2 linked regions of the Homo sapiens genome follow. The protein of the gene in region 1 purifies or fractionates together with the protein of each later gene. This does not show direct contact. Each region holds a gene or a part of one and is shown on either strand. Other genes may lie near its edges.

Region 1 (5,290 bases):
CAGGACCCTGAGGTCCTGAAGTTAAAAAAAAACCTCCACCCCCTCCACCTGCCCCCAACTCCCAGAGTATTTTATGAAACACTGTTTTGTGAAATTTCCAAACCACTGATTTCTCAAATACCTTGTAAAGTTTTCCTCCCTGTGGCATTTGGAGACAGCCAAATCAACATCAGAGAGTTTAGATGCACTTTTTGAGGTCAGACACCTCTGGTAATGAATGCATTGGCCTTCTAATAGGCACACGCAGCTGCTTACGGCACCCACTCAAATAGATGTTTTCCTCCACATCCATTCACCAGAGGACTGATGCTCTGGCTGGGCAGGAGCAAGTAATCAGCCTAAAGATGCACCAAAACAGTTGCTGGGAATTCACACCTAATGGTGTTTTGTTAATTTAATCACCCTCTTCCAAATAGCAGGAAAAAAGTAGCTTTAATGCCAGTTTTACTTATTTATTTATTTATTTATTTTGAGATGGAGTCTCGCTCTGTCACCCAGGTGGTGCTGTGGTGCTATCTCAGCTCACTGCAACCTCCGCCTCCCGGGTTCCAGTGGTTCTACTGCCTCAGCCTCCCAAGTAGCTGGGATTACAGGCACACATCCCCATGCCCGGCTAATTTTTGTGTTGTTAGTAGAGATGGGGTTTCACCACATTGGCCAGGCTGGTCTTGAACTCCTAGCCTCAAGTGATCTGCCTGCCTCGGCCTCCCAAAGTGCTGGGATTACAGGAGTGAGCCACCGCATCCGGCCAAATGCTGATTTTAAAAAGGTGCTTTACAATGCTCTGGATCCTCTTGACCTACTTATTTGAAAATAGGAAGATGGGAAGACCCACTGAGGCTGTGGGAAGAAGAATCTAGGGGTGGCAGGTCTGGGATGGAACCCAGCCCCTCAGAGCATCTCATTTGGGAGGGCAGAGGTCAGTGGGGTGAAGTGCTCTTTCTCACAGTGTCCTGGGAGGAATGGAGGGGCTGATGTAGGTAAGTTCCCTGAGGAGGTATGATGCAAATCTGTGCGGCTTCTAAAAGAACATTCCCACTTTATTTTATATAGAAATCCCAGAGTCCAGGGCAGTACAAAATGGATGCTTCTGGGCCCATTTATACCTTGGCAAGCAAACCACAGTGTTCCCAATTTCTTTATGCAAGCAGGAGCACACATACAGCCTTCCCAAAAGGTGTAAGAAATTTTAATTAAAATGATAAATGCCATGCTCAATAATAAAGCTTTAATATCTCTGGCAAACAAAATAACAATGTACTGCTATTCTCCTTTCCCAGGGAAGCATAGGTATTTTAATGAAAGTCTTTTTATACATCTCATAAAATTATTCTTGAAAAGAATAGCACTAAGTATTTGATACCTTTTTGGCAGTGAAGGACTCTTGCACTCCAAAGCTCATCCAAATGTGAAGAGCAAAGACTCTAAAGCCCAATTGCCTGGGTTCAAATCTCTATGCCACACTTCCTAGTGGAATAGAGGAATTCCACACTTCCTGTGTGAAATTGAGCAGGTCATTTAACCTCTTGGTGTCTCAGTTTACTCATCTGTAAAGTGGGAGTAACAATACCACCTACTTTTTCGAGTTGTTGTGAGGATTAAATAAGCTAATACATATAAATAGTTTAGAAACTGTACCCAGCACAGAGTAAGTACTCAGTAAGTCTGGTTAATATTATAATTATTAACACCATCATCATCATCATCATCATCTTTCTCCCATGGTTTGGGAAACCGTACTGACCTCCTGTAACATATCAGAGTCTTCAATGGCTTTGACAGCAATTTTCTTGGATGTTTCCTGAATTTCCCCACCTATTATAAACTCGTCCAGGATGAAATAAGCCTTTTCAAAATTAAAGATAATATCCAGCTCACAGACCTGGTGGGACAAAAACAAACGTTTTGATAAACTTGCAGTTGTATCAGGGGAAACATCTGCCCGAATCTCGAGCTTTTTCAGTTTGCACTCATGTGGCGTACCAAAAATAAAAATATCAGATGGCATTTTAAGGACAGAAAAAAAGAACAGGGAATGTCAGGCCTTTAATAAATGGAATGCTACATTCTATTAAAGCAAAGCACATCCTTAGATAATAATGTTTTGTGTTACAACAGGAAATTTGAGGCTCAGTAAGGGAATGAGGCCACTCGGCTCCTCTTCCTATCTGCACCAAGAAAACTGAGCCCCAGCTGCATTCCAGGAAGGAGGGCAGAGCTTTGTTTCTCCTGCTCTCTGCTCTGTAAATCTTGGCTTCTAGCTTTAGAACTCTCTCAGAAACTAATTCTTCAGAGGAAAATTAGCTCAACTGTGCTAATTTTTCTCAAAATTATGTCACAGCCAGTGGTTCTCAAACTCATTCCAAAGGCTCATTAAAACACACTGGTGCTACAGCCCACCCCCAGAGTTTATGACTCAGGAGGTCTAGATGAGAACTGAGAATCTGCACTTTTAACAGGTTCCCAGGTGATGCTGAGGCCGCCGGACTGCGGGATTTCACATCCAGAATCCCTGGCGCGGATCAAAGCAGAGTCTGATAGATTTTGGTGTTTATTTAAGTGTAGCAAGTATGGCAAGATCACTCCCATCATCCAAATAAAGCTCATTTCCCGTACTCACACACCATCCTTGCTGTCTTACTCCCTACTTATTCCTCTACTCACTGACACCTTCTCTTTCCATACCATACCCCACCCACCCAACTGAAGCTGTTCTCCTGAAACTCTGCTCATTGAGTCTCCAGACTGCATAAATGTCTTCTTTTGAGAAGCGTCTGTTCATATCCTTCGCCCACTTTTTGATGGGGTTGTTTTTTTTCTTGTACATTTGTTTAAGTTCTTTGTAGATTCTGGATATTAGCCCTTTGTCAGATGGATAGATTGCAAAAGTTTTCTCCCATTCTGTTGGTTGCCTGTTCACTCTGATGATACTTTCTTTTGCTGTGCAGAAGCTCTTTAGTTTAATTGGATCCCATTTGTCTATTTTAGCTTTTGTCACTAGTCATTAGAAAAATGCAAATCAAAAACTACAATGAGATACCATCTCATGCCAGTTAGAATGGCGATCATTAAAAAGTCAGGAAACAACAGATGCTGGAGAGGATGTGGAGAAATAGGAATGCTTTTACACTGTTGGTGGGAGTGTAAATTAGTTCAACCATTGTGGAAGACAGTGTGGTGATTCCTCAAGGATCTAGAGCCAGAAATACCATTTGACCCGGCAATCCCATTACTGGGTATATACCAAAGGATTATAAATCATTCTACTATAAAGACACATGCACATGTATGTTTGTTGCAGCACTGTTCACAGTAGCAAAGACTTGGAACCAACCCAAATGCCCATCAATGATAGACTGGATAAATAAAATGTGGGACATATACACCATGGAATACTATGCAGCCATAAAAAAAGATGAGTTCATGTCCTTTGCAGGGACACAGATGAAGATGGAAACCATCATTCTCAGCAAACTACTACAAGAATAGAAAACCAAACACGGCATGTTCTCACTCATAAGTAGGAGTTGAACAATGAGAACACATGGACACAGGGAGGGGAACATCACACACCGGAGTGTGTTGGGGGGTGGGGGGCAAAATACCTAATGTAGATGGCAGGTTGATGAGTGCAGCAAACCACCATGGCACATAAATACCTATGTAACAAACCTGCACATTCTGTGCATGTATCCCAGAACTTAAAGTGTAATTTTAGAAAAAGGGAGGAGAAAAAAAAAAGAAAGAAAGTCTCCAGACCTCCCCAACGTTTACCTCTCAGCCACATGTGGTACTCTTCACCAATCTCTCTTCCTTGAAAATCTCTTCTCCCTTGCTCCCCTGATTTTGGCAATACCACTTAATGCCTGTTTTTCTTGTCTATCTCTGATAATTCCTTCTCAGACTCCTTGGATAATTTATCTCCCTCCTACCCTGCATTTGTTTAAGAAGTATTTAAGGTGTGCCTAGCACATATCAGTCAACAGAACAGACAAACATCTCTACTGCATGTTGCTTATATTCTAGCCATCCATCTTCTGCTTGAATATTCATGTTCCTCAAGGGAGCCTCTTCTCTTTGCAAAATGCATATTCTCCTGGACAATCTTGCTGACTCTCTACAGCTGTGTCTAGCATGCAGGTAGCTCAACAAACCTAGATGACTAGCCCTGATCTCCCTCTGGGCCACTAGTCCAATATTCTCACCCACTAACTAGACATCTTTACCTACCTATTCCTCAATCCATGTCACTATGTCCCAAGCTGATATCAAGATTATTCTTTTTCCTTTAGTCCCTATTTTGCTTAGTAGTTGCAATCTCTTTCTAATTTCTCCATCTAATTCATTCTAGAGTTCAACCAACATACTTCCCCTTCCCCACTCATTCCTCTCCCTCCTTGATCTCATCCCTCTGGATTTGGTCATCAGTTTCTACTGATTCTATTGTCTAAATAAGTCCCTACCCTTCCTGTCTTCTCTGCTTTCACAGCTGCTGCTCAGGCCTACAGCACTTCTCCATCAGGCCACTGCAATGACCTTCCAGGTGGCGGTTGTGCCTGCTCAGGGCCATTGACCACTAATGCTTAGCTAAAATGCTGATCTTGTGCCTCTCCAGTGTAAGGTCTTCAGGACAAAGGCATATAGGAATCTTTACCAGCCTGGGCCCTGCTGTCTGATTTCCCGTGCCAGTTCTCATCCATGCATCTGACACACATGCCACAAACTCACAATGTCACGGTGTTTTGTGCCTTTGCTTTCTGCACATTCCAACAATTCTTGAATTGTGTCCCCAAATGTCCTTTTCTTTATTCTCCTGCTGGCAAAACCAAGCTCATTTTTTCAAGGCCAAATTCAAAAGTCAGGCATGTGGCGATTCCCCACATCCCCTTTTCCCCATTCAGATTTCACATCACTTCCTGTGGGTTCTCACTTACATCTTCTGTGCACTAGTTTCTGCTTATTGATTACTAATCACTCCCCCGTACTGTGAGTTCAGGGCAGAAACTTTGTCTTCATTATCTTTATATCCCTGGTTTCTGGCACATTGTAAGACACAAAAAATGCTTGTAAGATAAATGAATGAGCAAGTTTAAGTAGAGGCCTTGTCTGGGCATGGTGGCTCACGTCTGTAATCCCAGCACTTTGGGAGGCTGAGGCAGGCAGATCACTTGAGGTCAAGAGTTCAAGACCAGCCTGGCCAACATGGTGAAACCTTGTCTTTACTAAAAATACAAAAATTAGCCAGGCATGATGGTGCACGACTGTAATCCCAGCTACTCAGGAAGGTGAG
Region 2 (5,290 bases), on another chromosome or scaffold:
TCAATATTCATTTAACAAGTATTTTTGTGTATCTTTTACGTGCTTCTATGTGCACTGTTCTAAGTACTAAGCAGCGGTTTTGAACAAAACAAATCTGAGCTCTCACAGAAAAACAGGATTGCAATTGAACAATGAGAACACATGGACACAGGAAGGGGAACATCACACACCGGGGCCTGTTGTGGGGTGGGGAGAAGGGGGAGTGATAGCATTAGGAGATATACCTAATGTTAAATGACAAGTTAATGGGTGCAGCACACCAACATGGCACATGTATACATATGTAACTAACCTGCACGTTGTGCACACGTACCCTAAAACTTAAAGTATAATAATAATAATAAAAAAAACAGGATTGCAACAAATGCTATGCAGAGAATTAAAACAGTGATGGGACAGAAAGTGATGGGGTGACTACATGAGATTAGGCTGTCATAAAAAATCACTCTGAAGAGGTGAAATTTAAGCTGAGATCCAAATAACAAAGAGCCAGCCAAAGATCAGGGTGAAGAGCATTCATTGCTGCAGGACTAGATGGCTGGCACAGAAAAAGTCCAAGTGTATTAGTTATTCACAATAAATGTGACTGGTTTGAATGTCCCTATTTAATAACAAAAACTATATGTGATTAGGGTTCAAAAAAATTCTAGCCAATATCTGTTTGCAAGAAATTCACCTAAAACAAATACCAAATAAAGGATGGGGAAAAGCAGGGGTAGAAAAGAAACATCAGCAAATTCTAACAAAAAGAATGTTACAGTTAGCAATATAAAGAGGAATTTTAGGACAAAGTATTAAACAATCAAATAAGATGATTTTACAATAATAAAATATACAATCCATCAAGAAGATTTAATAGCAACGAATGTTTAAATACCTAATAATATAGCTTAAAGTATCTTACAGAAGCTGCGCAAATTATGAGAAACAGTTACATCAAAATCATAGGGAGGATTTAACATACCCTTCAGAGATGGAGAAGCCAAACACACAAAAAAATCTAGAACTTTGAAACTAGACAGCAAATTTTATTTTATTTTCCTTTATGGGTAAGCCACAAAGGACATTTAATAAATTCCAAAAAATAGAAATTACACAAGTCATATTCTCTGACCATAATGCGATGGAAAAAGGAAGTTTTAAAATACTCTTCTCAGCTGGGTGCAGTGGCTCACACCTGTAATCCCAGCACTTTGGGAGGCCAAAGTGGGGGGATCACTTGAGCCCAGGAGTTCAAGACCAGCACTGGCAACATAGCAAGACCGTGTCTCTATGGGAAAAAAAAAAAAAAAAAAAAAATTTAATTAGCCAGGCATGGTGGCTCATGCCTGTAGTCCTAGCTATTCAGCAGGCTGATATGGGAGGATCTTTTAAGCCCAGGAATTTGAGGTTAGAGTGAGCTATGATCATGCCACTGCACTCCAACCTGGGTGACAAAAGGAGACCCTGTAGCAAAAAACCTCACAAAAAACAAAAAACATCCTTCTCATTAACTTTTATGTTAAATGTAAATAAAGGTGATTAGACTATTTTGAAATGAAAGACACTGGGAAGATCACAGGTCAAAATCTGAAGAGTATGGCCACAGCAGTACTTAAAGGAAAATGGGACCTTAGACATATTTTGTTATGAAATCACAAAGATTGAAAATATATAAATAGTTAACTCTTAAGATGGGTAAGTTATTCCTAAACAACACACAACTCCAGAAGTCTGAAAGAAAAAGATTAACATATTTGATTATATAAAAATTTAAAACTTGAACATAAGACATCAAAAACAAGGTTAAAAAACAAGCAACAGACTGGGAAAAAACATCTGCAGTATCCTTTAAGACAAAAGACCTGATGTCTGTATTATATAAAAAGCTTTGACAAACTAGTAAGAAAAAGAGACATTATAGAAAAACAAAGAATAGAAATAGATAATTCCCAATAGAAGAAATGGCCAATGACCACATGAAATGTTCAAAACCAATTAATATTCAAGGAAATGCATTAGGTCATTTTTTAAATAAATATTTCTTGAGTAATATTCTAGCTAACAAGTAACAGACAAGCATTACATTTATAATATAATGTATTTGGTTTATGGCCGGGCATGGTGGCTCACGCCTGTAACCCTGGCACTTTGGGAAGATGAGGAGGGAGGATCACTTGAGCCCCGGAGTTCGAAACCAGCCTGGGCAATACGGTGAAACCCCATCTCTACAAAAAAAAAAAAAAAAAAAAAAAAAATTAGGCGTGGTGGTGTATGCCTGTAATACCAGCTACTCTGAAGGCTACTTGGGGGGATTGCTTGAGCCCAGGAGGAGGCTGCAGAACCCTGATCGTGCCACTGCATTCCAGCCTGGGTGACAAAGCCAGACCCTGTCTCAAAATAATAATGATAATAGTAATAGTAATAATTTATTTGGTTTAGAGGATAATGATACTAAAGATATGTTTACTATAATTGTACACTGAGAAACACACATGAAAACCAATGCTTTTTCATATATTAATTGAATAAACACAAGTGCTAGGGATACAGTGTCAAAAAAGAATAATAGGACACAATGAGATAATATTTCATACCCACTAGGCAGATAATATTAAGTGTTGGTGAGGATGTGGAGAAATTAGAATCATCATACATTGCCGGTGAGAATGTAAAAATTGTACAACCACTTTGGAAAACAGCTGGGCAGTTCTTCAGAAGGCTGAACAGAGAGTTACTACAATACTCAGCAATTCTACCTTTAGGTATACACCAAAGAGAAATAAAAACATGCTCAAACAAAAACTGGTATGCTAATGCTCATAGCAGTAGTATTTAAAATAGCCAAAAGTAGAAAAAAACCCAAACATCTATGAACTGATAAATGGGCAAACCAAATGTGTTATATCAATATAAGGGAATATTATTAGCAATAAAAAGGAATGAAGATCTCCCAGCACTTTGGGAGGCCGAGGTGGGTGAATCACCTGAGGTCAGGAGTTCGAGACTAGCCTGGCCAACATGGTGGAACCCCATCTCTACTAAAAATACAAAAATTAGCTGGGCGTGGTGGTGTACGCCTGTAATCCCAGCTACTTGGGAGGCTGAGGCACGAAAATCACTTGAACCCAGGAGGTGGAGGTTGCAGTGAGCCGAGATCGCACCATTGGACTCCAGCCTGGGCAACAGAGGGAGACTCCGTCTCAAAAAAAAAAAAAAAAAAAAATGAAGCACTGATATGCACTATAACGTTGAGGAATCTTAAAAACATTATGCTAAGTCAAAGAAGCCAGTCACAAAAGGCTATATGTTATATGATTCCATTTACAGAAAACGTCCAGAATAGACAAATCTATAGGAGTGCAGTTGCTTAGAGGCTGAGGGGATAAAGAAAATGGGAGATGACTGCAAAAGGGCACAGCATTTCTTTTTGGGCTAATGAAAATATCCTAAAATTGATTGTGGTGATTGTTGCACAACTCTGTGAATATAATAAAACTCACTGAATTGTACACTTTAAGTGGGTGAATTGTATGGTACGTGACTTTTATCTCAATAAAGCTATTACCAAAAAAGTATAATAGGAAAGAGGAACAAAACTTTTAAAAGATTTTAAAAGTAATTTATATATTATTCTAACCAATCAGTTATCAAACTTCATAATATAATAAACATCAAAAAGGAGTTCTCTTGAAACAGTCAATTTTATTCAGTTCTGGTGTCTAATATACTAATAATCAATGAAGAATATAAGGAGAAAGTGATACAATTACAGTCTCAGCAGTGGAATTTATTGAGACAATACATTTTAAATTTAAAAATGTATTCATAAAGCTTATTTATTTGTATTATTTTTAATTTAAGGTTTACTATTGTTTTTCTTGAAGTAATTTTTCCTGCCCTTGTTATTAGGGTGGGCTTTATGTACTATTTAATCTGATTTCCACACATATTATTAAACTGGTATTTAATATCTACAAATAATAATTTTGTCACTATTTTCTCAGGATTATGACCAACATGCCATGAAACTGTGATCCTAGTATATCACGCCTGGACTTGATTTTTAAAAAGCAATCATATTCAAGTGACTGTGTCCTTAACAGTGATTCCATTAAGTGAACAACAAATTTACGTTCAGCAGTGATTGTGAGAAAGAAACACAGGGGAACTTAGGAAATATAAATAGTTTCAGTTTAAAATCATGTAAAAATAAAACTATAAAATTAATGGGATTTGCATCAATTAAAAATTATTAAATAATATACTCTTGCATACTATACATTGAATTTGGCTACAACCTTCTCTGCTTTACATACATTTTTCAAAATTGACATAGATTGTATGAATTACAAACAAGTTCCGAGAGGTGATTTTACTACATACATTTCCATACTTCAGTCTTCATCTTACACAAAGGCAGATGTGACTTAGGGGCTCTCTGTCCAGGACTGAGGTATTTACCTGACATATCTCAGATATCAGTCAATCAACTGTCAGCATTTATTGATCATCTTCCAGGATATTAATGCTTTGCAAGCATCTCTGGGTAAGTGACTAAAGATTTCCTTGGGGCAATAGGAAAGAGGCTCAGATTCTTCTAACCGATGATTTAAAAAATATTTCAGCATGCTTTGTGCACGCTGATCACTGAATATTCATCAGGAGCTTTCAGTCAGCTTTTACTGGATGCATATCAAGTCTGTGTTGTTTTACACTGGGTTCCTTTATAGGTTCACAATTGGTATCATTTACTTTAACAAATTGACATTTATTCTCTGAATGGGTTTAGTATTTCGCCAAACCTTCTGCTTTGTAAAGACATGCTTTTTTTTTCTTTCTGAGATGGAATTTCACTCTGTCACCCAAGCTGGAGTGCAATGGCACAATCTCGGCTCACTGCAACCTCTGCCTCCCAGATTCAAGCAATTCTCCTGCCTCAGCCTCCCAGGTAGCTGGGATTACAGGTGTGCACCACCGCACCTGGCTAATTTTTGTACTTCTGCTAGAGATGGGGTTTCACTATGTTGGCCAGACTGGTCTTGAATTCCTGACCTCAAGTGATCTGCCCGCCTCGGCCTCCCAAAGTGCTGGGATTACAGGCGCGAGCCACCACGCCTGGCCAAGACATGCTTTTGATAGTAAATCTTCAGTGTATGGAATTCCAGCACAGGTATATCAAATTTTCTGAATCACTTTTTCTTGGAGGTTTATCTTGAAAGATATTACATTAAAGAAAGAGACCCTGGATTATCCCTGAGTGATTTCTCAATCCCTGATCATCCTCTGCCTTCTCTCGGCCAGAGCCTTC

The links. The genes of interacting proteins can lie anywhere in the genome.
Region 2: the proteins of AP1S3 (region 1) and VAMP4 purify together in Homo sapiens (pull-down; one study listed by IntAct). This does not show direct contact.

Annotation. Positions count from the first base shown.
Region 1 is NC_000002.12:223,763,469-223,768,758, forward strand, and holds part of AP1S3 (AP-1 complex subunit sigma-3), read right to left. Parts: intron 1,883-5,290; coding exon 1,745-1,882; intron 1-1,744. UniProt on the Homo sapiens protein: Subunit of clathrin-associated adaptor protein complex 1 that plays a role in protein sorting in the late-Golgi/trans-Golgi network (TGN) and/or endosomes.
Region 2 is NC_000001.11:171,731,084-171,736,373, forward strand, and holds part of VAMP4 (vesicle-associated membrane protein 4), read right to left. Parts: intron 1-5,290. UniProt on the Homo sapiens protein: Involved in the pathway that functions to remove an inhibitor (probably synaptotagmin-4) of calcium-triggered exocytosis during the maturation of secretory granules.